Linked DNA regions of Homo sapiens: region 2 is linked to region 1. The links come from fine-mapping of genetic effects on plasma protein levels. A gene starts in region 1. The other region holds a variant in brackets. All regions are shown on one strand. Distances are from middle to middle.

Region 1 (12,715 bases):
TGAGGTCAGGAGATTGAGACCATCCTGGCCAACATGGTGAAACTCCATCTCTACTAACATACAAAGAAAAACATTAGCCAGGTATGGTGGCACGCCCTTGTAGTCCCAACTATTCAGGAGGCTGAGGCAGGGGAATCGCTTGAACCCAGAGGTGGAGGTTGCATTGAGCTAAGATTGCGCCACTGCACTCCAGCCAGCCTCAAAAAAAAAAAAAAAAATTGGTTCACAAGCAGGTTAAGTGGATTGTGCCACTGACTCCAGCCAGCCTCAAAAAAAAAAAAAAAAAATAGGGTTCACAAGCAGGTCGAGAAATTCTGTTTGCTAATTGCAGGAGTGAGATGCAAAGTAAGAAATGTTTACTTCATACAATTCTCCCTGGAGCAGTATGGGCCAGGGAAAATGCTAAACAATAAAGTACCTTGTGTTCTTCAGACTCCTACAATGTGGAATGACTCTGGCCTTGAAACAATTAAAGAAAAACCAAAGTGTCAACATTATTTATTAAGTGACTGCACACTTTCCTATAACTCTAGTAGCCAGCGTATAAGGCAGTTCCTCAGCTTTGCAATTTTTGAGTGCACCTGGGGAGGAGCAGACACCTGGGGATGACAATCTCTACCAACCAAACTCAGAAGAGACTAGTATTAAACCAGTAGCTCTGCATGTAGGATCAATATACATATGAGAAGAAACAATACTGTTTGTTTTTCTCAGTTGACAAACGCTCTTCAAAATGTATGTAGGGAAGGAAAAAATTTTCCTTCTACCCCTTTGGTTCTTGGCTGGGGCCACCGAAACAAAAGTCAGATTAACAAGAGAAAAATAGAAGTTTAGTAACATGTGCATCTCATGCATACATGAGAGAAATTCAGAAAGCAACTCAAAGAGGTGGCTAGAACTTGGGCTTAAATGCCTTCCGCTAAAGCAAAGGAAGAAGCATGTCGGGGAGCAACTTACAGGGGGATGACCAGGAAAAGTACAGTAAACAAGGGAAAGCTTTCTCATGCAGATTTAAGTCAGTACCTTCTCCGCTGATAAGGGTTTCTTTTGATTTAGAGTCACCTTTCTCTTTCTGGTGAAGAAAGGGAGACATCCTTACAAATGAAGATTTCCCTTATAAACGCAAATGTCCCTTACAAAACAGCAACGTGCACTCTATTTTCAGAGTTTGTCTTGTGTATACTGCTTCTCAAAATAAGCAGTTCAAAATAATATTCATAATAAAGAAGCATATTTTGGGGTGGCATATTCTGGTCTCCTATAGTAGATTCTCACAAATACCTCATTTAAGTAACTCTTTAAAACTTGCTTTTATTAAAGGGTTAGCAGATGGTTGTTCAAAATAGTATAGGAGGAAAGTAGATTTAAGGGCAATTAGTAATAGCTTTGTGTTGTTTCTCTGGCTTTCCCGGTGGTCCACCCCTTATTTGGATAGCTGCATATTGACTCTCCTTAGGTATCTACCCTTCCTCTTTTGTGTGTAGTATTGGTGAGGCTGTCCACTAAGGTCTGCAGTCCCCTCTACTGAGCCAAGCGATGGTTATGAGATCCAAGCTAGCCTAACTGAAGTCTCATAGGAAACAAGAATATGTCACCCCAAAATATGCCTCCAGGTTGAAAGTCCTGTCAATTAGCATTTTTGCTGCTCTGCATCCTTACTGGCTTTGATGATGTCAGTTTTCACTGCATTTTAGTCATTCATGTAGGTGTGTAGTATTATCCCATTGTTTTAATTTGCAATTTTCTAATGACAGATTGAAGGGATTCACAGCCCACCAATATGGCAAAACTGCCCTTGCAGAGTTATGGAGTGTTGCAAGCCAGGCTCTAGGCAGAATTGCACATTAATCATAGCATGCTGGTACACTTCAACCCACTTCCCTGTAGCTTCTAATTTCCCAAGTAGCATGCTGACCACCTACTCCCCGATTGTTCCTATAGGTAGAATCTCCAATACTAGAATCATGAAATCTTTTTGCTTAAGAATTGCTTAAGGTGTTTTTCTGATCCTGAATTCCAGTGCAACAGCTAATGCTAACCAGTCTAAAGACCCCTACCAAGGAACTGGCTTGGCACATGAATGCTGAGTTTCTTCATGTCCCTGTCCCATGACTTCACCTCTCACTTCTTGATGAATCAGAAATGCTCACATTTTGGCCCTTGTCCAGACTCCTTAAAAACCCTATCCCCAAACCCAAAACCAAATTGTAGGTTACCTCCCATCTACTCATTTGGCTGCCCTATGAAAATTAAACTCTCTCTTTTTCAATCCCTGTTTTCTTAATATATCCATTTGTTGTGCATCAAGTAACAAATCTGTTATGATGATAGTGGCATGAAAATTATTTTAAACTGAAAATGTCTGAACAGACAGAAGCTGCAGAAAGAAACACTATTTAAACTTAACCAGAGCCTCTTGAAAATTCAGCTGCCATTGATCCCCTTCAAAGGTATTTTCCTGTTTGAAACGAGACAGCCCCTTAGCACTGGGATGTGTAAATTAGCTTCCATAAACCCCCATACAGGGAAACTTCCAGCCAGGAAGAAATCAATCTACCCATTTCTATTAGCATCAGAAAGCTTACTAGAACCTTCCATATTTTCCTTTTGAAGCCCCAACAAAAATCTTTTATTTTTTATTTTATTTTATTTTTGAGACAGACTTTCACTCTTGTTGCCCAGGCTGGAGTGCAGTGGCGCAACCTTGTCTCACTGCAACCTCCGCCTGCCAGGTTCAAGAGATTCTCCTGCCTCGGCCTCCCGAGTAGCTGGGATTACAGGTGCCCACCACCATGCCTGACTAAATTTTGTATTTTTAGTAGAGACGGGGTTTTACCATGTTGGCCAGGATGGTCTCAAACTCCTGACCTCAGGTGATCTGCCCACATTGGCCTCCCAAAGTGCTGGGATTACAGGTGTGAGCCACCATGCCCGGCCAAATCTTTTTTTAAAAAATAGAGATGGGGGTCTTGCTATGCTGTTGGTTTCAAACTCCATGCCTCAAGTGATCCTCCTGCCTCAGTCTCCCAGAATGTTAGGATTACAGGCATGAGCCACTGCACTTGGCCAAAAACACTTTTTTTAAAGTTGATATATAACTTTACCTCTGGCTATTCAGCAAGTTACGCATTATGTAATACTCCTGTGTGCATGTGTAAATAAACTTTGAATTTTCTCCTATTAATCTTTTTCTAATTCACAAGCTCCTTTACCACCACCTTTAAAACCTAAAATGATAGAGGAAAAGTTTTTCTCCAAACAATGTGATGCTGAACATCTTTTCATTGCTCATCTGCCATCTGTATATCTTGTTTGGTGAAGTGTTGGGGTACAGAGAATCATACTACAAACTATGATGCATGGCATTCTGAGCACTTTTGAATTAAAGAAATTAAATTAAAGAATTAAATTTAACTAGAATTAAAGAATTAAAGAAACCAAAACTTCTTAGAAGCTGCCTCAGGACCAAAGATGTTCTAATCTTCTCTCATTCCTCCCCCAGCTCTCAAATGCAGAGAGGAGCTCTCTCTGGAAGTTCCCTTGTCTGGATAAGGAAAACTTCTTCCAAGAAATGCAATTGTCTTAAGACCCCCCTTTCTAAAAATCTCATCAGATAACCAGGAAATATTAGCCACCTGAAAAAAAGAAGAGACTAGAAGTCTCTTCACACCACACTCAGATAGACCTTTCATCTATTCTTCCAAGAGCAGCTCCAAAAGAGTACCTAAGAGACTTTATCTGTATAATAAGGCAACCTTTGTTCATAGTGCAGTTCCACCCTTCACCTTCCCATAACTCGTCACCCTTCCATTCAGCTTCCAAAGAGACTCATTTACAAACTATTGTCTGCTATTTGGGGCCAGTTCCCTAAAAAATATTTAAAACTCCTCAAAATTGCCTACATTTTCCCCATGTTCCTCTCCCCTATGAAGAGAATACATGAATTTCAACTATTTAGTCTTTCTTTGAGTCTCATAATTTGTATGGTTCCCATGATTATGCACAGTAATAAATTTGTATGCCTTTTTCTCCTGTTAATCTGTCTATTGTCAGTTCATTTCAGAAGTTTTGAACCTTCAGAGGGAGAGGAAAAATTGTCTTTGCCCCATACCATTCAGATGTTTTGCCCATTTTTCAACTAGGTTGTTGGTTTTCTTATGGTTGAGGTTTTTTGAGTTCTTTGTATATTTTGGATAATGTTCTTTTATCAGATATATCTTTTGCAAATATCTTCTCTCAGTCTCTGGCTTATCTTTTTATTCTCTTAATAGTATCTGTTGCAGAGCAGAAGTTTTCAATTTTAATGAAGTTCCACTTATCAATATTTTTCTTTCATGGATTGTGCTTTTGGTATTGTATCTAAAAAATCATTGCCAAACTCAAGGCTGCCTAGATTTTCTTCTATGTTATTTTCTAGAATTTTTGTAGTTTTGTATTTTGCATTAGGTCTATGGTCCATTTTGAATTAACATTTGTGCCAGGCGCGGTGGCTCACGCCTGTAATCCCAGCACTTTGGGAGGCCGAGGTGGGCGGATCACCTGAGGTCAGGAGTTCGAGGCCAGCCTCACCAACATGGTGAAACCCTGTCTCTACTAAAAATACAAAATTAGCTGGGTGTAGTGGTGCATGCCTGTAATCCCAACTACTCCGGAGGCTGAGGCAGGAGAATCACTTGAACCTGAGCGGCAGAGGTTGTGGTGAGCTAAGATCATGCCATTGCACTCCAGCCTGGGCAACAAAAGCGAAACTCCATCTCAAAAAAAAATTGTGAAAGATATAAAGTACAGGTCTATGAAAATGTATGAAGTCTAACCTATGAAAAGATTTATTTTTTGCATGTGTACATTCAGTTCTACTACCATTTGTTGAAAAGACTAACTTTTCTCAATTGAAAATTGATCCTTTGTCACAGATTAGTTCACTGTATTTGTGTGGGTCTACCTCTGGGCTTTCTACTTGGTTCCATTGACCTATTTGTCTATTTTTCACCAATAACACACTGTCTTAATTGCTGTAGCTTTATAGTAAGTTTTGAAGTTGGGTCACGTCAGTTTTCTGACTTTGTTCTTCTTTTTCTGCATTGTGTTGACTATTCTGAATCTTTTTTTTTTTTGAGACAGAGTCTCGCTCTGTCACCCAGGCTGGAGTGCAGTGGTGCGATCTCGGCTCACTGCAAGCTCCACCTCCCGGGTTCAAGCGATTCTCGTGCCTCAGCCTCCCAAGTAGCTGGTACTATAGGCGCCCGCCACCAGGCCTGGCTAATTTTTTGTATTTTTAGTAGAAACGGGGTTTCACTGTGTTAGCCAGGATGGTCTTGATCTCTTGACCTCGTGATCAGCCTGCCTCGGCCTCCCAAAGTGCTGGGATTACAGGCGTGAGCCACCGTGTCCAACCTGAATCTTTTACTTTTATATAAACTTCAGAGTCAGTTTGTCACTATCCACAAAATAATGTGCTGGGATATTGATTGAGATTGTGCTGAATCTATAGATCAAGTTGAGAGGAAATGACATCTTAACATATTGAGTATTCCTACTCATGTACATGGAATATCTGTGCTTCCTCAATTTCTTTCATTAGAGTTTTAAATTTTTCCTCATACCAATTTTTACATAATGTATTAGATTTACACCTAAGTATTTCACTTTCTTTGGTGCAATATAAATGGTATTGTGTTTTAAATATCAAATTGCAATTGTTCATTGCTGGTATATAAGAAAGCAACTGACTTTTGTATATTAACCTTGTATCCTGCAACCTTGCTATAAACAGACATTATGTTTATTCTGCAGACATTTGGAGCCATAAAAGCATGGGGCAAGAGTGTTGTACTATTATATCTTGTTCAAAAAAAGACTAATCTGGAAGTAATATGTAGAATGGATTGGAAGGAGAAAAAAACAAGGCAAGGAGTCCATGTGGGAGGCTTTTATGTGAGCCCTCCATAAGACAATGAGTTTCTGAATAAGGGTGTTGCAGTACCAGTGAAAAGGTAAGAACAGATTCAAGAGGCAAATATCCTAAATTCGGCCTTCTTCTTCAGGCTTACAGGTCTTTTCATACACAATTCTGTCTTTGGGAGGCGCTTAACACTCTCTTCACCTAACTTCTAATTATTCCTCAAAATTCAGTTCAGGTGTTGTGCCCTCCAACAATCCTTCCCCTCTACTATCTTCCCGTAGCCTCCTGCAGTGTCCTCCATCACACTGTAAGTGCTATTTATATTAATATAATCTACTTGTCTATATACTTACCTGCCTGTCTCTAATCTCTTTCATTAAATCATGAGCTCCTGGCAGATCACGAGGTCAGGAGATAGAGACCATCCTGGCTAACACAGTGAAACCCCGTCTCTACTAAAAATACAAAAAAATTAGCTGGGCGTGATGGCAGGCACCTGTAGTCCCAGCTACTCGGGAGGCTGAGGCAGGAGAATGGCATGAACCCAGGAGGTGGAGCTTGCAGTGAGCAAAGATCGCACCACTGCACTCCAGCCTGGGCGACAGAGCAAGACTCCGTCTCAAAAAAAAAAAAAAAAAAAACTCATGAGCTCCTGAATTTGTGTAGCCTAGTACCTGGCCCAATAAGTATATGCATAAATGAATAATGTATTCACTTCTGTTGTAGGAACTTACAACATTACCAAGTATGTGGCAGGCATTATATCATATTTATGTGACATATTTTCTCTTAAGAAACAGGAATCATAAAGCTTCAAAAAAAAACACTGAAGCCTCAGATGAGGCAGGAAGCACTCATTCCATATCAGGAAGTGATCAGTTCCTCAAAACTGTGAGTTTTCAGTCATGTTGTTTCTTTAAGTTGGTTTAGCCTTCCTGTATACATGTGATAATGATACTGTTTTAAAGAACAGGTGTGAAAGTCTAAGAGTTTAATCCAGACTCTGCACAAGAAGTTAATCTGCCAAACCCTAGGATTCTCCTTCTGAAAGCTCAGAATATTTCTTCCCCTTCCCTATACACACAGGGCTCGAAGGGTTAGAGAAGAAAGGCAGACAACAGCTTCTGAGCTTTGGACTAATCACAGCCTCTGTTCTCAGCAGGAGCCCCAACACTGAGACCAGGTAAGAAAGAAAGCCTCAGGGCTGGAGCGAGTAGAGCAGTAAAGACGGCTGGGAGGTAGTGGTCAGATAGAGGGTAAATATTTCAGGAGGGAAGAGGGAAGAAACTTTCTGATATGACAGCCATCAAATGCATGAGTACTTGTGAAAGAAAATGGGATATGCCAATCAAAGGAGAGGTCATATTTCTGTTTCCTGGGCTTCAGGTTCTTCATAGAATTGTGAGACTATGTGAGAAAGAAGATTTTAAAGGGAGCTGTAAAATCTTAAAAGGCAAAATAAAAATCTAAATAGTTATGATTAAAAATTTTGCTCTTATTGCTTCTCCTACTATAACTATCTTCTCTCTTTCTACACAGAAAAGATGGTGCTATGCTTTCCTCTTCTTTTACTGCTGCTGGTTCTATGGGGACCAGTGTGTCCACTTCATGCTTGGCCTAAGCGTCTCACCAAGGCTCACTGGTTTGAAATTCAGCATATACAGCCAAGTCCTCTCCAATGCAACAGGGCAATGAGTGGCATCAACAATTATACCCAGCACTGTAAGCATCAAAATACCTTTCTGCATGACTCTTTCCAGAATGTGGCTGCTGTCTGTGATTTGCTCAGCATTGTCTGCAAAAATCGTCGGCACAACTGCCACCAGAGCTCAAAGCCTGTCAACATGACTGACTGCAGACTCACTTCAGGAAAGTATCCCCAGTGCCGCTATAGTGCTGCTGCCCAGTACAAATTCTTCATTGTTGCCTGTGACCCCCCTCAGAAGAGCGATCCCCCCTACAAGTTGGTTCCTGTACACTTAGATAGTATTCTCTAAGGCATCCACTGCATTTCCTTTCATTTGACATAGCTTCTGTTACAATTGCATCCATGTTTTCTTTTCTTTTGTTGATTTTCTTGTTCCCGTAGAAGAAAGAAGAAAGGTGTTTGGAGAATTCGAGTGCCTAGGATGCCAGACCAGAGTTGAGACAAAAAGAAATAAGATTATTTTCTGCTTTGTAGTTCTGTACTTTTCGAGAGAAGGGAATAGGGAAGACAGCAAAGAAAGATTCAGATTTCTAACCCTGCAACTTTTGCCAAGCTTTATTGCCCTGTGTTCACAGCAATAAAACCACTTCCTGCTGCATTCTAATGAGTGTGTGTTTGAGATCCGCTTTCAAAGCATTGTTGACCGGTACTCAGAGGAACACTGTTTTGACTTTAAGTCCCTAGAAAACTTTTGAGGCCTCCCTGGGGCCCCACTTCCTTGCCCACAAGAAAGGACAGCGTTTGGGACTTTGGAGCATTTCTTCAAACTCTGCTCATGACTTTATATATTCCCCTGGAAACCATTGTCTATGCTTAATTGGAGGTAGTACTGATACCTCAAAGACAGTTGATGATAACTCACACATAGATTCTGTCACTGGCAACTGAAGGATCCTATGTCTTTTCTATTTGTTTCCGTTTTTAATCAGATAATGTTTTAAATATAAGGTGATAGTAGTAGTAATAGGGATAATAATCCATTGTAGTAACCTTAGGGTCAATCCTCCATTATTTATTGAAATGGATAAATAGAAAGCATAGATCAAGAAAAAAGCACTAGGCTTGTCGTGGTGGCTCACGCCTGTAATCCCAGCACTTTAGGAGGCTGAGGCAGGTGGATCGTCTGAGGTCAGGAGTTCAAGACCAGCCTGGCCAACATGGTGAAACGCTATCTCTACTAAAGATACAAAAAAAGTAGCTGGGCGTGGTGGCAGTGCCTGTAATCCCAGCTACTCGGGAGGCTGAGGCAGGAGAATCGCTTGAACCCAGGAGGTAGAAGTTGCAGTGAGCAAATATTGTGTCACTGCACTCCAGCCTGGGCAACAGAGTGAGACTCCCATCTCAAAAACAAAAAAAGAAAAAGAGAAAAGCACCAGGAGACCCAATGCAGTGGCTCACACCAGTAATCCCAGCACTTTGGGAGGCCGAGGCAGGCAGACGACTTGAGGCCAAGAGTTTGAGACCAGCCTGGCCAATGTGGTGAAACCCCATCTCTACTAAAAATACAAAAAATTAGCCAGACATGATGGCAGGAGCCTGTAATCCCAGCTAATCAGGAGCCTGAGGCAAGAGAATCGCTTGAACCTGGGAGGCAGAGGCTGTAGTGAGCCGAGATTGCACCACTGCACTCCAGCCTGGGTGACAGAGCGAAACTCCCGTCTCAAAAAAAAAAAAAAAAAAAGGAAAGAAAGAAAGAGAAAAAAGCACTAGGAAACTAAAAACATTCTAGTCCTATGTAAATACTGAAATACCACAGAAGTATTGGGGTTTTGGAACAGAACCTGAACTAAGCCATTTCACAGAAGGAACTTCAGTTTCCTTGTCAACCTCTAGAGTCATTGGGCTAGTGGGCCAGTGTAAATCCCAAGTGCTTTGTACAGTGATGAGTCTTCAAGTAGCAGCCAAAGACAATGAAGTTTTTTTGAAAAGGCTACATATTGTAGTGTCTTCATTACCTGTGCTGCAAATGATTCTTTCCAAGCCAGACTATTAGTTTAATAGATATGCTAACTCAGCTCACCTTCCTTTACGCTACACATTTATGTCATATCTTAGGAACAAAGAATGGAATATGAGGTTTCAGGAGCCTGGATTCCAGGGTGATGACTGATCAAGGGCCCTCCCATTGGGAAGAGATTAGCAGGTCAGGGCAATATGGCACCTAAGAAGGTGGGTACCTTATAGAGGGAATCCTACAGTGGGACTTGAGTGCTCTAACTCAAAGCAGCTTTCAGTTGTATTCAGCTTTAAGCCATGTTGCATTTACATTTTATTGTCTCAGAGTCTTCATGTAAAGTGTGGTGGAATGGCAGGGAGAATCTGTGCTCACGTTTGGTATGAACAAGTATACGAAAGTAGCAGCATCTGAAAGGAAAGGGGTTGAATGGATTTATATGAACATTACCTGGAAATTGCCAGAGATTCTTAAAGGTAATCTAGTAAAACCAAACAACTCAATTGCTCATGCTATTGTTATTTATATAGTAAAGGTATCTCATGGATTGAATACATCTGTGCTGCAAAAATTTTTCAACTGTCAGAAACATTAGGGAACATGAAATGTTACTTAAAATTAGTGAAATAAATTGTGAGGTCTAAAATACTGCAAATATTTTGTAACAAATGGTTAAAAACAAAAATATAATGAGTGCCATCTTTTGAAGAGATTTGCAGCAACAATATCTAATCTTCCCCACCCTCCCATGACAAACCTATCCCCAACAACAATTAGAGTCACTTTTTGTTGCTGATCAAGGAAAAGGCAACAATGAGGGTAACTTTTCAACAATCTATTATGCCCAAACTTTTAGAAGGTATTAGTTCTAAACAAGTGGAATAGACTGGGATGGAATCTCTCATAGATTTATTTTCTTTTCTACATGCAGTTATGTATTGCAGAAGTTCAATACATAATTGCTAAGAAGTTCACTTAGATATATCCCTAGAATATACAGAATGATCCCAAAGCAGGCAAAGCTTAGAAGTGAATTCAGCAGATGTTCTAGCAGCTCTCAACTCTGGCTTCATATTAGATTCACCTGGGAGCTTTTAGAAAAATACCAATGACGGGATCTACTAAATAAATTTTATGAACATTTAATGAACAATTAAATGAATATCTGGGGGTGAGACCTGGGCTCTAATGGATGTTTGTTAAAGATCCCCATGTAATTGTAATGGGCAGCAAATATTGGTAACAACTGTTGATGCAGGGGTAAGCAAACTACATCTGCAGACCTCTGGCCTGCCGCGCCTATTTTATACTGCCTGGAGTAGTGTGGTTTTTACTTTTATTTTTTTTTTTGAGATGGAGTTTGGCTCTGCCGCCCAGGCTGGAGTGCAATGGCTGGATCTCGGCTCACTGCAACCTCCACCTCCTGGATTCAAGCGATTCTCCTGCCTCAGCCGCCTGAGTAGCTGGGATTACCCGCCACCACGCCCAGCTAATTTGTTTGTTTGTTTGTTTGTTTGTTTGTTTGTTTTTTGAGACGGAGTCTCATTCTGTCGCCCAGGTTGGAGTGCAGTGGCGCGATCTCAGTTCACTGCAAGCTCTGCCTGCCGGGTTCACGCCATTCTCCTGCCTCAGCCTCCCGAGTATCTGGGACTACAGGCGCCCGCCACCACGCCCGGCTAATTTTCTGTATTTTTAGTAGAGACGGGGTTTCACCGTGGTCTTGATCTCCTGACTTCGTGATCCACCCGCCTCGGCCTCCCAAAGTGCTGGGATTACAGGCGTGAGCCACCGTGCTTGGCCGATTTTTACTTTTTTAGGGGGAGAAGAAAAAGGAGGAGGAAGAGGAGGGGGGGAAGAACAGGAAGAAGGAAGGAGTAGAGACGTGAGGGAGGGGAAGGAAGGGGAAGAAGAGGAAGAAGAAGGAGAGGAAGTGACACAGACCCTATGTGTTCCACAAAAGTGAAATATTTACTGTCTGGTCCTTTATAGAACAAAGTGTGTTGATTCCTGGTCTTCTAGACTATTCAATGGATCTTGTCCTTTGGCTGTGGCTGAGGCAGGTGGCTGGAATTCAGTAGGAAGGACGACACCTGGCAGGCTGAGAATTTTGAACTGGGGCCTCAGGAAAGTAATGATTTTTTTTTTTTTTTTTTTTTTTTTTTTTTTTTTTGAGACGGAGTCTCGCTCTGTCGCCCAGGCTGGAGTGCAGTGGCGCGATCTGGGCTCACTGCAAGCTCCGCCTCCCGGGTTCCCGCCATTCTCCTGCCTCAGCCTCCCCAGTAGCTGGGACTACAGGCGCCCGCCACCACGCCCGGCTAATTTTTTGTATTTTTAGTAGGGACCGGGTTTCACCATGTTGGCCAGGATCGTCTCGATCTCCTGACCTCGTGATCCGCCCGCCTCGACCTTCCAAAGTGCTGGGATTCCAGGAGTGAGCCACCGCGCCCGACCGTAATGAATTCTTAATATTCCTTTCTGTGCCCTGTTTCAGTCTTTTTCTGCAATGTACTCATTTCCTCTGCTTTTCTTTTTCACACAGTAAGTAGACAGTCATCCCTTTCCATCTCACTTTCTAATTTTCTCTGAAATATTATTTATTTTTGAAGGGATTCTGACTGATCCCATCCATAGATCAGACATGACCATCGGACAGAATCACATTGCAAAAAATAGCTTCCAGGAGCCTTTCTTGTGGACCATGCAGAAGAGAGGCTTAGAGAGAACTGCCCTTAAGGCTGGCCAAATGGGGTCTCTGGCCTCGCCTGTTCCTCAGGCACCCCGTTGCATCTTGGAATACCCTTCTCAACATTTTCTAAGTCTCTCATCAGTGGCTGCAGTCAGCCCAGGCTGGTAGTGCCTGGCCTGAGATCCGCATGGGATCCTATTCTCTTTCTCTCCTTTGGGGCTTTCTCCCACCCTCAACCCTTCCTTCCAGCACAGGAAGCCCTAAGGAGCTTCAGGACTCATGTCTGTAGTGTTGTCTTGGGGCCAGGACTGGTTCCAGGTGAGTTAGCCCTGGTTAGAGATGTCATAGTTCCCAGAGAAAAGGGGCTAGATAGACAATTCAATACTTTTTCTTTAACCACACAGTGTGGAAACAGAAATTGAATAACAATGTACTCTTGAGGAATAGAGGAAAGTTTATTTTAAG
Region 2 (12,715 bases), 66 kb before region 1:
GGGTCAGACATAGCATTGATTTGTCTGTGCACGTCTTGAAGGGCTAAGGAGATGTTTCGCAAATTACCTAGGATATACACAAAACATTTAGTTTCAATTATGGGTCAAGGTCCCTCCCAGCAGCTGTGAGTACATCAAGGGCCATGTGGTTTTGCAAGACTACTTTTCCCATCATAGTCATTTCAGAGGTTACTAATGAGATGCCCTTAAATGTGTCTTTCAGCACTTGCTATAATTTGTAAGTGCCTCAATATGCCAGATGATGCTTTCTAAGCCTGCTTGGGGGAAAACAAGGGACAGGAGATGGTCGTAGGAAGGGAAAACCGGCCTGGTCCATTGGTGTAACACATCTGGAAAGTGTGCAGGCTGCCTGGTGGTTTTTGTTAATCAGCCCCGGACCTATGGGGGTCCTAACGTGCACTGCCCTATCCATCCATCAGGTAGACATGGCCGAAGATTAGTTTCACATAACTATTGAGTTCCACTGGGGACCAGCCACCAAATTTTGGGTCTGTGTCCAATCAGTGGTAAACAGGTTTGTCTAATATAGCACTAAAGAATGTTCATATTGATGTAGAGGCATCCTATCCACATTTTTAGTAACATTCGGCCAATGATTCTAAGAGTGATTCCTTTGTTCCCAACATGAAGTGGCAATTTGGGTTAAGTGACTAATAGTGGAGATCATCCAGAGGTAATCGTCCCAAATTTGATAAAAACTCACCTACCGTGTAATGGTTATTAGTAGCCAAAATCTTGGGGGCCATCTAGGAAAACTCCTTTAAGAGAGGGATTGCATACTCAGAGGTCCTTTGGATAGTCCGGTTATAATGAAGAGTTTTCCAGGATCTGGATTCTGAAGCGTTATATTAATGCCAGGCCATTTTTAAAAAATATTACCTTAAGTTACCAAGGTCCTGATTTTCCCATGAACAGTTTTTCATATACGTTTGTAAATGTATCTAATCAGTCCCCTGCAGGGGTGATACTCACTAAAGTAGCCCAGAAGTGCTAGAGATGGGTAGCAATCCACATACCCAGCAAGCATCTTAGTGTAGACTATCTGCATAATGTTATGCCCACTGTAGAAATAGACTAGTTTTAGCAGATGTCAAAAAAGTTTACTCATTATGATAAAGAATAACAGAAATTTAATCCTATAGTACAAAAAGATTTTTCTTAAGCAGTAGCTTCAGTTCTCCAGTTGGCTCACAAGTCCAACCAGGTTGATTGTCTGCTGTGTCAGGTTGGGGAGGGGCGATTTTTACCGAAATGTGATGTATGCGTGGTTTGACTCCAGCCAGCTTAACAGATGAATGAGTAGTTAATAAAACATCATAATGACCTGTCCACTTTTTGGCTGGCTGTTGTTGGTCCAGTCCTTGTTTTTACCAAGATTTTAGCGGCACTTTATCCTTGGATGAAAAGGGTGAAGGGGCTTTTTTGTAAGACACATAAAACTGGAAAGAACAAAAAGAACAAACTTGTGCAGGGTTAGTGATTTATGTCTTAGTTGTTGTACATATTGTTTAATTCTTGATTAATTTATTAAGTCCAAGGGTGGGGTCCCTGGCCAAGAACTTCAGAAGGGTCTCCCACACACAATTTCAAAAAGGCTTAATTTAAGCCCACTTCAGGGTGCTACCCCAATCCATAGCAGGGCAATAGGTAAAACCCTTTACCATTTTAAATCTGTTTCCCGATAGAGTTTTGCCAGGGGTTTTTTTTGGTTTTTTTGTTTGTTTGTTTTGTTTTGTTTTTGTTTTTGTTTTTGTTTTTTAGCATGTGGATCATCTTTTCAGTCTTTCCAGTTGATTGTGGCCTCCAACAAGAGTGTCATTTCCATTTGATCTGTAATGCTTGGCTTATCCTTTGTGTGATCTCAGAAATTAAAGAAGGATTATTGTTGCTTGGTATGGAGTAAGGAAGTCCAAATCGAGGAATGATTTCTTTTAGCAGAGCCTTAGCTACTTCTGCAGCTTTCTCAGACTTGTTCGGATAGGCTTCAATCTCTTGCTCGGGTAAGCTTCAACCTTTCCAGAAAATGTGTCTACAAACACTAGTAGGTACTTATAAATCCCAGTGTTTTTGGCATCTGGGTGAAATCAACCTGCCAGTCCTCGAATGGTCATATTCCTTTGTATTGTATCCTCCTCTGGGAAGAGTTGCATGCAGTTCTTGAATCATTTGGGGTATATAGATAACATGCTTGTATAATCTTTTGAATGATCTTTTGAAGGTGTGGCCCTTTGAGATATGGCTACACCAGGTGAGCCAGTCCATCTCTGCCATAGTGTGTCCCCTCATGCAGGTCTTTCAGGACTGGGTATACCAGGGCCTCAGAGAGTAATATCCCATGAGTGTTAGCTTTCCATGAGGAACAAGGGTCTGTGTTGGTCAATGTCCACTCATGTGTGCATTCTTCATTTCATTCAGTGTAGTGGAGTTTAAATTCTGACAAGTTTAAATGGAGTATTAAGGTCCCAAGTAAATATGTTTCTTGAGTGGCCTGCTTTGCAGCTTTATCAGCCACTTGATTCCCTTTGGTTATTGGGGAGTCATCCTTTTGGTGGCCTTGGCAGTGCATAATAGCAACTTGAGTTGGCAGAACAACTGCCTCTGACAAAGCTAAAATTTCCAGCAGGTGTTTAATGTCTTTATTTCTTGAGGTTAAGAATCCCCTTTCTTTCTGAATGACCCCACGGGCATACACTACCAAGAAGGCATACTTGGAGTAGGTGTAAATGTTTACCCATTTCTCTTGAGACTGTTTTAAGGCCCTGATGAGAGCAATCCATTCAGCTTTTTGTGCTGAAGTACCAGCAGCGGGGACATAGGCTTCTACTACTTTGTCTAGGGTCACTGGAGCATACCTGGCCTGGCGTTGTCCTCCTTCTGTGAAACTGCTTCAGTCAGTGTATAGCTCCCAGTCCGGAGTGGCCATCAGATGATCTGACAGATCTGGTCTGCTGGAATAGACTGCATCAAGAATTTCTAAACAATTATGCTCCAGTTCATAGTTGGACTCAGTGGCTGGGAGCAAGGTGGCAGGATTCAAGACTGTGGTGGTTTGGAGAAAACATTTCTGTTATCTAATAGGCTGGCTTGGTATTTGCCCATATGCCCCGCTATCATCCAGTAACCTCCCTTTTGTTACAATAAGGTTAACACTTGATAAGGCACAAATGCAGTAATGGGCTGTCCTAGGGTGAATTTTTCTGCTTCCTGTAAGATATCACACGTAGCTGCCACGGCCTGAAGACAAGGTGGCCATCCTCTGGTAATCTGCTCCAGTTGTTTGGGAAAGTAGGCTATGGGTTGTGGGGAATTCCCACGTAGTTGAATTAGTATTTCCTGTCCTGTGCCCTGGTTTTCATGGATATAGAGTCTAAATAGCTTTCAAGAATTGGGCAGTCCTAATGCTGGAGCTGACACTATTTTTTTTTTTTTTTTTGATGGTATCAAATGCCTGAAGGCATTCAGCCATCCAGTTTAGGGCTCCTGAATCTAATCCCTTTAGAGCCTTGTAGAGAGGTTTGACTATGAGTCCAAAATTAGGGATTCAGATTCAGCAGAAACCTGCCACACCTAAAACCCCCCACAGTGTCTTCCATTCCCAGGGGCCTTTATTGCTGCTATCACCTGTTTCTGGTTGGACATCAAGCTCTGCTTTCCTTGTTTTTAGTCAGAAGCCAAGATAGGTCACTTCTTGTTTACAAATCTGAGTTTTCTGAGGTGATATGTTACGTCCGTATTATATCAAATAATTTAAGATTAAGATAGTGTTAGATAGGCACCTCTCATAGTCTTGGCTTGCGATTAACAAGTCATCCAAGTATTTTAGCAGAACCCCATCATCTAGTTGAAAATCTCTGAAGCCCTTTGCCAATATTTTGCCAAAGATGGTGGGTGAGTTTTTAAAACCTTAAGAAAATACAGCCTAACAATATTGGAAGGTGTTTTTTGTTTCCAGGTCTTGCCACTCAAAGGTGAACAGCATCTGGTCCCTCTCTTCAATCAGGATGCAAAAAAAAAAAAAAAAAAAAAAGTATCTTTTAAGTCTAATACCGAAAACTACCCATACTGCCCTGGTTTATCAGTTAGTAAGGTGTAAAGGATGGGCATAGTTGGGTGAATGTCTTGAACAATGTCATTAATGGTTCCCAAATCTTGTACAAATCAATATTCATTTGAGTGTGGGTTTTTAACAGTCAGGATAGGGGCATTGTATGGAGATCTGTAAGGACATATTTGTCCATTTTTTAGAAACTTCTGTAATATAGGTTGTATCCCCTCTAAAGCCTCTCTTTTTAGAGGGCACTGTGTTTGGGGAATACCTTAGCCCCTTCATTTATTTCTGTGCACACAGGCTGTGTATTTTCAGCACTACCTGTGGTCCCATCTGCCCTCATGACTACTTACTTGCTCACAGATTGCTGGCAGGAGGCATTCTTTTTCTTCCTCGGGGTGTGTGAGCAGCATCTGCAGCTGCAAAGCTTGCTCTGGCAGGACCTGCAGATGAAGTTGTTGTTTTTCTGGAGAAAAACGTCACATGGCAATTTAGTTTACAAAGCAAATCTCACTCCAGCAAAGGAATTTGGTATTCCAGCATATAGAGGAAACTGTGTCTCAGCTCCAGATCTCTGTGTCCGGCAGTCTCCAGACTCTCCAGGGTCTGGAGAAAGGCTGTTTGCTGCATCTTGCCAGCGACAACCATCACAGGCACTGTTTTCCTAGTACTTTCAGTTTCTTTAGTGTTTCTACCTGAATAAGTCACACCAGTATTGATTAAAAAGTCAATCAATTTGTTCCCCATTGTCAATCGTACCTGAGGTTCCTGTGGGGAAATTACAACCTGCTCCAAAAGATTTGGGCCTCCTTCACTATCTGAGCTACAGTCCTGCTTTACCATCAGCCAGTATGTTTCTTCTCTGTCACTGTGTCTCCCTTCTTCTGGTTTCCCTGTCTTTTCTTTAATTTGGGGCACTCAGATTTCCAATGACCTTCCTCCTTGCAGGGGGCAGACTGATCATTACCTAGAGTTTTGTTCTGGCCACCTCCCTGTGCCTGGTTTTTCCTTTTCGGATATACATTCTTTCCACTAATTCCAAGTATATCATGGCTTGCTTTAGCTTTTTGGCCTTCCTGGCATTATATACTCTGAAGGCAATGTCCAGCAGTTGGGAAAGGTTTATTCCAAATACCCCCTCCAGTTTCTGCAGTTTTCGTTTAATATTGGATGAAAGTCACGTTTACCATTCTCATATTCTCAGGAGCTTCTGGATCATAGTCCATACACTTGTGGTAAACCTGGTAAATGCACTCCAGAAATTCACAGGGGTTCTCATCTGCCTTTGGGAGAACTGCCCTGGCTTTATTTAAGCTCTTTTACATTCTTCTCTTTAACCCTGCCAACACATGCTTTTTATAATGACTGGACAGGGCCATTCCTCCATTGTTGGGGTCCCAAGTAAAATCTGCAAGTGGAGCAGCCATTTCTATTCCTTCCCCATCCTGGGGAGAGGAGCTGACACCTTGGCCTCTCCGGGTCCTGGGCTACATTTGGTAATCCTGGGAGGGCTGGTGCCCCCAGTACCACATGGGAGGGGAAATTTAAGATATTTATGAGGCCCATATCATCAATATCCTCTTCCTTTTGGGTCTTACTATCTGGAAAGAGAAATCTCTTTTTCCCTTTTCTCTACGTCATTCACATAGACCCCTCATGTGCTGAGTCTTTGTTATGTAATAAATGCTTAAACACATGGAATCTCATTTCATTTCCCAGATCTTAGGCAAAATAACGCCAACTGTAATAAGGTGTACTAATGTAAATCACTGTTCAGTAGCCACCATTTTTCAGATTCCAACACATACATAGGCCAAACAGTGTTACAATGAAAAAAAATCATTATCTTTTTTGTTATGAGTTCATAGCTATAAGCTTTCCAATAAGCCAATATACAGCCCAATGGCCACTTAGATGGAATGGAAGTCAAGTTGCCCATTCTCAGGGGAGAGATCAAAAGAACACAAACACACAGATCAACACAGAGTACTCCTGAACCAATTCCTGTAGAAGGAGACTGGGAAGTTAATAAATCTTAGGCTAACTGATACTGCAAAAGACCTGTGTCAGGTCCAAATGGCATAAAGCCCAAATGGCAGAGACAGAGGATTTCTAGCATGCAAACTGGTTTGATTTACCCAGTCTTGAATCCTGTCAACTTCCTCAACTATCATTTTCCTTATACTAATAAAGCATTGCAGGCAGCTGATGCCACAGAGGGGGAAGGAGGGAAAAGATGTTCTTGGCAGCTGCTGGGACAACCCTAGAATCCCAGCTGGGAGGTCAGCTAGCCACGAGCAGCTAATCCTCATGAGAAGTTGTTGCTCTGCCTGGTAGCATGAATGAGTAAGCCCTGGCATGATGCCACAGCCAATTGCTCCATCCATCGGAAACCAGGCACGCTAGACCAGTAGAGACATATAGCCCCATGCTGGGTGATAAAAAATGTAACCAAACTGTTGGAAGTAAGTGCTCGGTGCCACAGAGTGAAAATAGCACTCAGGCAAAAATTTTCTCAGCAAAGCAATTTACTTCTATAGAAGGGTGCATCTCTCAGATGGAGCAATGGTGAGAGCACACCAGACAAGGGAGGAGAAGGGCGTCTTATTCCTAATGCAGCTAGTCCCTACTGCTGTGTCTTTCCCCTGTTGGCTAGGGTTGGACCACACAGTCTAAGCTAATTCCAGTTGGAAATTTTAAAGAGAGTGAGTGTATGAGCTGGAGTGGTGGGGTGAGTAGTTT[C/T]ATCAGGGAAGGACAGTTACAGAACAGGAGAGTAAGGATGCCTAAGGACAGAACAGGTGATAGAGGCTAGGAGGGGGTTGTTTACTGAAACTAGAGGCAAGGAGGTGTAAAGAACAAGGAAGTTAAACTTCAAAATGGAGAACAAAGAACAGGGAAGCTGAACATACTGACGTATTTGTTCTTTGAAGAGGAACTCAGAACTCATTGTACTTAAATGATTTTTTTCTCCCTCTTGAATTTTTTTTTTTTTTTGAGATGGAGTCTTGCTCTGTCACCCAGGCTGGAGTGCAGTGGTGCAATCTAGGCTCACTGCAAGCTCCGCCTCCTGGGTTCACGCCATTCTCCTGCCTCAGCCTCCTGAGTAGCTGGGATTACAGGCACCCGCCACCACGCCCGGCTGATTTTTTTGTATTTTTTAGTAGAGACAGGGTTTCACCATGTTAGCCAGGATGGTCTCAATCTCCTGACCTCATGTTCTGCCTGCCTTGGCCTCCCAAAGTGCTGGGATTACAGGCATGAGCCACCACGCCCAGCCACCATCTTGAATTTTAAAGGAAGTTAACAGGCTAACTCTGAAGAGGAATTTACTGTATCCTACAATCTCCCCCCTTTCAATTTTCATAGGCCTTCCTCTTCAAACCTTTTTAACATGTCTTGGCTTTGCTGCTTGACTTGATCCTCTAAAAGAAGAAAGCTTTTCTGAATAAGGTGGAGGAAAGTTAAGGGAGGTTTTAGTAGGTGCTGTTTCTTTGCACTGCCCCACGGACGCATGGTATGACACAATACCCAACAAGAATGAGTACACCTATTACGGCTGCAAGAGAAGTAAGAATCGAGGCTATGATCTTTTCCATCTACTGAACCACCTTTCTAGCCATCCTGAGAAAGGGTTATTGACTCCAGAATCTTTAACTAATTCATTGGATAAAGCAGTAAGTCCTTGTAAGACCCTTGTTATGCTCCCAGTGGGGGCAGTGTTGCTTGGGATAAAGGTACAGCCCTGAGTTTTAATCATAACACCAACACTGCCTTTTTCAGCTAATATCACATCTAGGGCCATTCTGTTTTCCCAGGCCATCTGGCTAGTGGGCCCCAATTGTTCTGCTATCCCTTTGACAGCATCCCTGGTGTAATTAATAAACCACTGCTAATTATAATAGACGTAATTTATCCAATCTATGTTTTTATTAATTGTCACCCACAAAATCCTGCAGCTATTTAATCTTGACTCAAATCCTGCAGCTATTTAATCTTGATCTTTAAATTTATCTGGTACTCCTCATGGGACTCCAATTGCATCTAAATAAATGTGGGAGTTGAAAGACCCATAAGGAGCTTCCCTTGTTTTATGATGTTGTATTTTTCCTCTCTCTGGTTGATGAAATGCTAGGGTGGAAGGGATAGCCAATTAAACTAGAGCACAAGTGCTGCTCCAGTTACTTGGCAGAGAGTCCAGTAAAGGTCCACCACAATACCACCATACATATGCTTGGGGATGAACAAGGGCTGACTGATTGGTAAGCTCTTGGAAAGTCTTAAGCTCACTGCATCTTTTTAGGTCTCCAAGGAATGCTAAGTTTCCTCCCTGTAGTGAGAGATATGAAGTGAACTTAGCGTCAGGGGACAGAAGCTGAGTGGACCTTGGGGGCTGACCTGCAGGGTATTGAACCTCAGGATATAGCAGAGAGAGCTTGACACGACTTTTTACCCCAGGCTGTGTAATCCTGGAAAAAAGTAACCATACAGCCCATGCCTAGTAGACTAAAGGACTATCCTAATGGAAAGGGGACAATCTGGGCTTCTGGTCTGCCGTGCGCACAAGCATAACAAATGCTTTTGTTTAAAGTGTGGATGGAATGTTTGATCCACTCCAACCAGGCATTAGCATCTTGATATTCTGTCTCAATTGCCAAAGTTTGTTTTAGGTCTTTAACTTCTATAATAACTACCTTGGTCTTGTCATTAGATGGAGGAGAACAACAGTTTTGTTGTGAGAGCTTCTGGAAGAAGGCTTAAGGGAAGGTGTAGGCGGCAGAGGATCAATGAATTGTGTTTCAAAGGATCTGATAGGGTCTGTTCCTGAAACCTCAGCCCCCACACCATAAAACCGGCTTAAAGAAGGGAACCGGCTTAGAGAAGGGGAAGAGCTTTGAGGGTTTGAGATAATAACCTGTATTGGATTGCACGGTTCAGCTGACAGCTAGGTGAAGCTGTTCCTTTAGTAAAGTGAATATATGACTTTAGGAAATTACAACCACTGGTTGGGGCAGCTCATCCTTGCTCTTTAGTGGTCCACAGAATGTTGGACCAACTGTGGCATAAAAGCTCTGTCTTGCAGGAGCAAGACTCCCAGCTGATACTGGGGTCTTTATTGAAATCTCTCCAGACTAAATGATCCCCATTCACTAATGTCCAGTCTGAGGAGAGCCGGGAAGGACAGAGGTACTTTTCTGAATTGGAGAGCTGTCTTTAACTTGACAAGTCTCCACAAGGTATAACAAGGCAAGCATCAAATGTAATAGTTTGAGGTGAAATTGACTTTGTTACATTAATAATGAGGTGGTCAGCAATAGAATGAGGAAAGAAGAAGGAGTAATAAGAGAGTTAAATTTTTCTTAGCTTGGCTCACGCCTGTAATCCCAGCACTTTGGGAGGTCGAGACAGGTGGATCGTTTGAGGTCAGGAGTTCAAGACCAGCCTGGCCAACATGGTGAAACCCCATCTCTACTAAAAGTACAAAAATTATACAGGCGTAGTGGTACACGCCTGTAATCCCAGCTACTCGGAAGGCTGAGGCGGGAGAATTGCTCGAACCCGGGAGGTGGAGGTTGCAGTGAGTGAAGATCGCACCACTGCACTCCAGCCTGGGCAACAGAGCAAGACTCTGTCTCAAAAAAAAAAAAAATTTCTTAGCTTTAGTTTGGTAGGGTTTTCCCCTGGGACTATGGCCCACGACTCTGGAGGGGGCGGCACTTTCTTGACTTGGGTGTGATAGGTCCATCCTTTTTCTGCTGTCTGGACTGCGCTTTCAGTAGTTAGGAGCACTAGATAAGGTCCTTCCCAGGCCAGTTCCAGCTTTTCCTCCTTCTAGTTTTTGATGAGGACTTGATCCCCGGGCTGATTTCGATGTACTGGGAACTCCAGGGATGGTGCCTGTGCTAAAAGACCTTTAGTTCTAAGGGAAGAGAAAGTGGAAGATAAACCAAGTATATAATGTCTGAGAAACTGATCTTTTGTTTCGAAGGTGGAAATGTCAGCAGTGGAGTGTAAATAGGGCAACCCATATAGCATCTCATATGGGGATAGGCCAACATCTTTTTGAGGGGTGGTTCAGATTCCTAGCAAGGCAATGGGAAGGCATTTAGTCCATGGCAACTGAGTCTTTAAGACTAATTTGGTTAAGTGACTCTTCACGGTTTGATTTATTCTTTCTACTCTTCCCGATGAAGGTGGGTGCCAAGGAGTATGGTATTCCCACGTTATGTCTAGTGCTTGGGCTAATTTCTTAATGATATGTGCAGTGAAATGAGTTCCATTATTTGAATTAATATTTTCAATTTATTTGCCCAGATCCATTGGAGGAACCACTATCTATGACCGCTATAGTCTTATGAAATGTATTTCTGAAGTAATAAGACTTGAAAGCCAAAATTACTCCTTGATCCATGGGCTGCAGAACTGCAGAACGGATGTTGTGTGAGCAGGCATGGAAACTATGGAAATTAATATCTTTGAACATCTCCATCAGAGGCCTTAGGTAACCAAGTGCATTGCCAATCAGCAGTAGTATTTTGAAAGGAATCTTTTTTTTCTGAGCAGGTCTCAATAATGAGCTTAAAATATTCAGTAAACCATGATGTAAACAGATGTGCTGTCAATCAGGCTTTGTTGTTCCATTTATAGAGACAGGCAAAGTAGATTCAGCATAATTCCTAAGGGCCCTAGGATTTTCAAATGATACATGAGCACTGGCTTCAACCTGAAGTCTCCAGTGGCAGGTGCCCCCTGACAAGAGAGTTGGCCTGCCCTCTGAAGCTCTGAAACCAGGCACTGACTCCTCCTCTCTAGCTATGGGAGTCCCAGATGGCACCTTCTTCCACTATAAAGCTGTCTCATCTACACTGAAAATCTGTTGTTTAGTGTGGCCACCTTCATCAATGATCTTATCTAGAGCTTCTGGAGAACTTGCTGCAGCTTCTCCTCAGGACTTGCTGCTTCATCCTGCACTTTTATGTTATGGAGATGGCTTCTTTCCTTAAACCTCACGAACCAACCTGTGTTGGCTTACAACTTTTCTTCTGTAGCTTCCTCACCTCTCTCAGCTTTCAGAGAATTGAAGGGCCTGATCTGGTTTTGACTTTGGCATAAGAGAATGTTGTGGCTGGTTTGGTCTATCCGAACCACTGAAATTTTCCCCGTGTCAACAACAATAAGGCTGTTCTGCTTTCTTATCACTTGTGTGTTCACTAGAGCAGAACTTTTAATCTCCTTCAAGAACTTTTCCTTTGCATTCGCAACTTGACTAACTGGCTCAACAGCATTTGGCCTATCCTAGCTTTTGACACGCCTTCCTCACTAAGCTTAATCATTTCTAGATTTTTAAAGTAAGAGACATGTGACTCTTCCTTTCACTTGAACACATAGAGGTCATTGTAGGGTTACTAAATGGCTCAGGGAATAGGGAGTCCTAAAGACAGGAAGGTGGGGAAGCCGCCAATCAGTGGAGCAGTCAGAACACACACATTTATCAATCAAGTTTGCCATCTTCAGTTTGTGGCACCCCAAAATAATTACAATAGTAACATCAAAGATCACTAACCACAAATTACTGTCAGATATAGTCATAGAAGAAGTTTGAAATATTCTAATAATTACCAAAATGTGACACATGGAAGCACTAAATGCTGTTGAAAAAATGGCGCTGACAGATTTGCTCAATGCAGGGTTGCCATAAGCCTTCAACTTGTAAAAAACACAGTATCTACGAAGTGCTATAAAGGGAAACACAACAAAACGAGGTGTGCCTGCACAACCAATGCCCAACTGTGTGTACCGCCTGAAGGAAAATGTTTCAAAGGTATCACAACTTTTTAGTCTGGAAATCTGAACAATATTTTGGTTTTTCACAGTGAGCATGTGGAACTTATATAACCAAAAAAGTAAAGTTGTATTTGAATGCATGTGGGCTACAAGTAAAAAGGAAGATGAAATAACAGTTTTATAAAGCGGAAAGATTTATGGGTCTAACTCTGTGTCATATTTAGATTTTCTAATAAATGGGTATAGGAACAGAAGGAGAGACAGAGTTAGATAAAAGGTGTAGACGGTAGGCTTTGCTGCTTCGAGAACTTGGTGCTGATTAGAGGTGTGATTGCATTCATGGTAATAGGGATGAGTGTCACGAACTGCTGTGTGTTCTGCTGGTGAGCTTCACTGCAATACTGCACTAACCAGTGAGTGTAAGCCTGCAGCACAGCCAGGGACTGAGCACGTACATCAATGAGGTCAGGTTTCAATACTGATGGCACATCAGTTTCAATGTTGCACAATTTTTTTTTTTCTTTTTTGAGACGGAGTCTTGCTCTCTTGCCCAGGCTGGAGTGCAGTGGCACGTTCTCAGCTCACTGCAACCTCTCCCTCCCTGGTTGAAGTGATTCTCCTGCCTCAGCCTCCCGAATAGCTGGGACTACAGGCACGTGCCACCGTGCCCACCTAATTTTTTGTGTTTTTAGTAGAGACAGGGTTTCACCATGTTATCCAGGATGGTCTCAGTCTCCTGACCTTGTGATCCACACACCTCGGCCTCCCAAAGTGCTGGGATTACAGGCGTGAGCCACCGCACCTGGCTCAATGTTGTACAACTTTATCTGAGATCCATACAGAGTGACTTTGACCAAACTCTCC

What was found. PIP is the chance, under the fine-mapping model, that this variant and not a neighbour inherited with it causes the effect. Protein levels are from antibody-based Olink assays in UK Biobank. Linkage for the fine-mapping came from a reference panel and not from the study's own genotypes, which makes the PIPs less certain.
Region 2: its variant is fine-mapped to the plasma level of the RNASE6 protein (UK Biobank, PIP above 0.99).

The regions. Positions count from the first base shown.
Region 1 is chr14:20,774,254-20,786,968 of GRCh38, forward strand. It overlaps RNASE6 (ribonuclease A family member 6), which reads left to right and starts at 7,015. Exons shown (of 2, transcript NM_005615.5): 1 at 7,015-7,085; 2 at 7,442-8,214. The coding sequence starts at 7,447. The coding sequence ends at 7,899. The region is part of intron 1 of LOC107984671 (a long non-coding RNA gene); the gene reads right to left. RefSeq lists enhancers at 682-1,285, 8,090-8,159.
Region 2 is chr14:20,708,659-20,721,373 of GRCh38, forward strand. LOC124903282 (a long non-coding RNA gene) reads right to left here and starts at 7,065. Exons shown (of 2, transcript XR_007064061.1): 1 at 4,423-7,065; 2 at 1,135-3,060. It also overlaps the pseudogene RANBP20P. The variant C/T (reference allele first, on the strand shown) is at 6,812.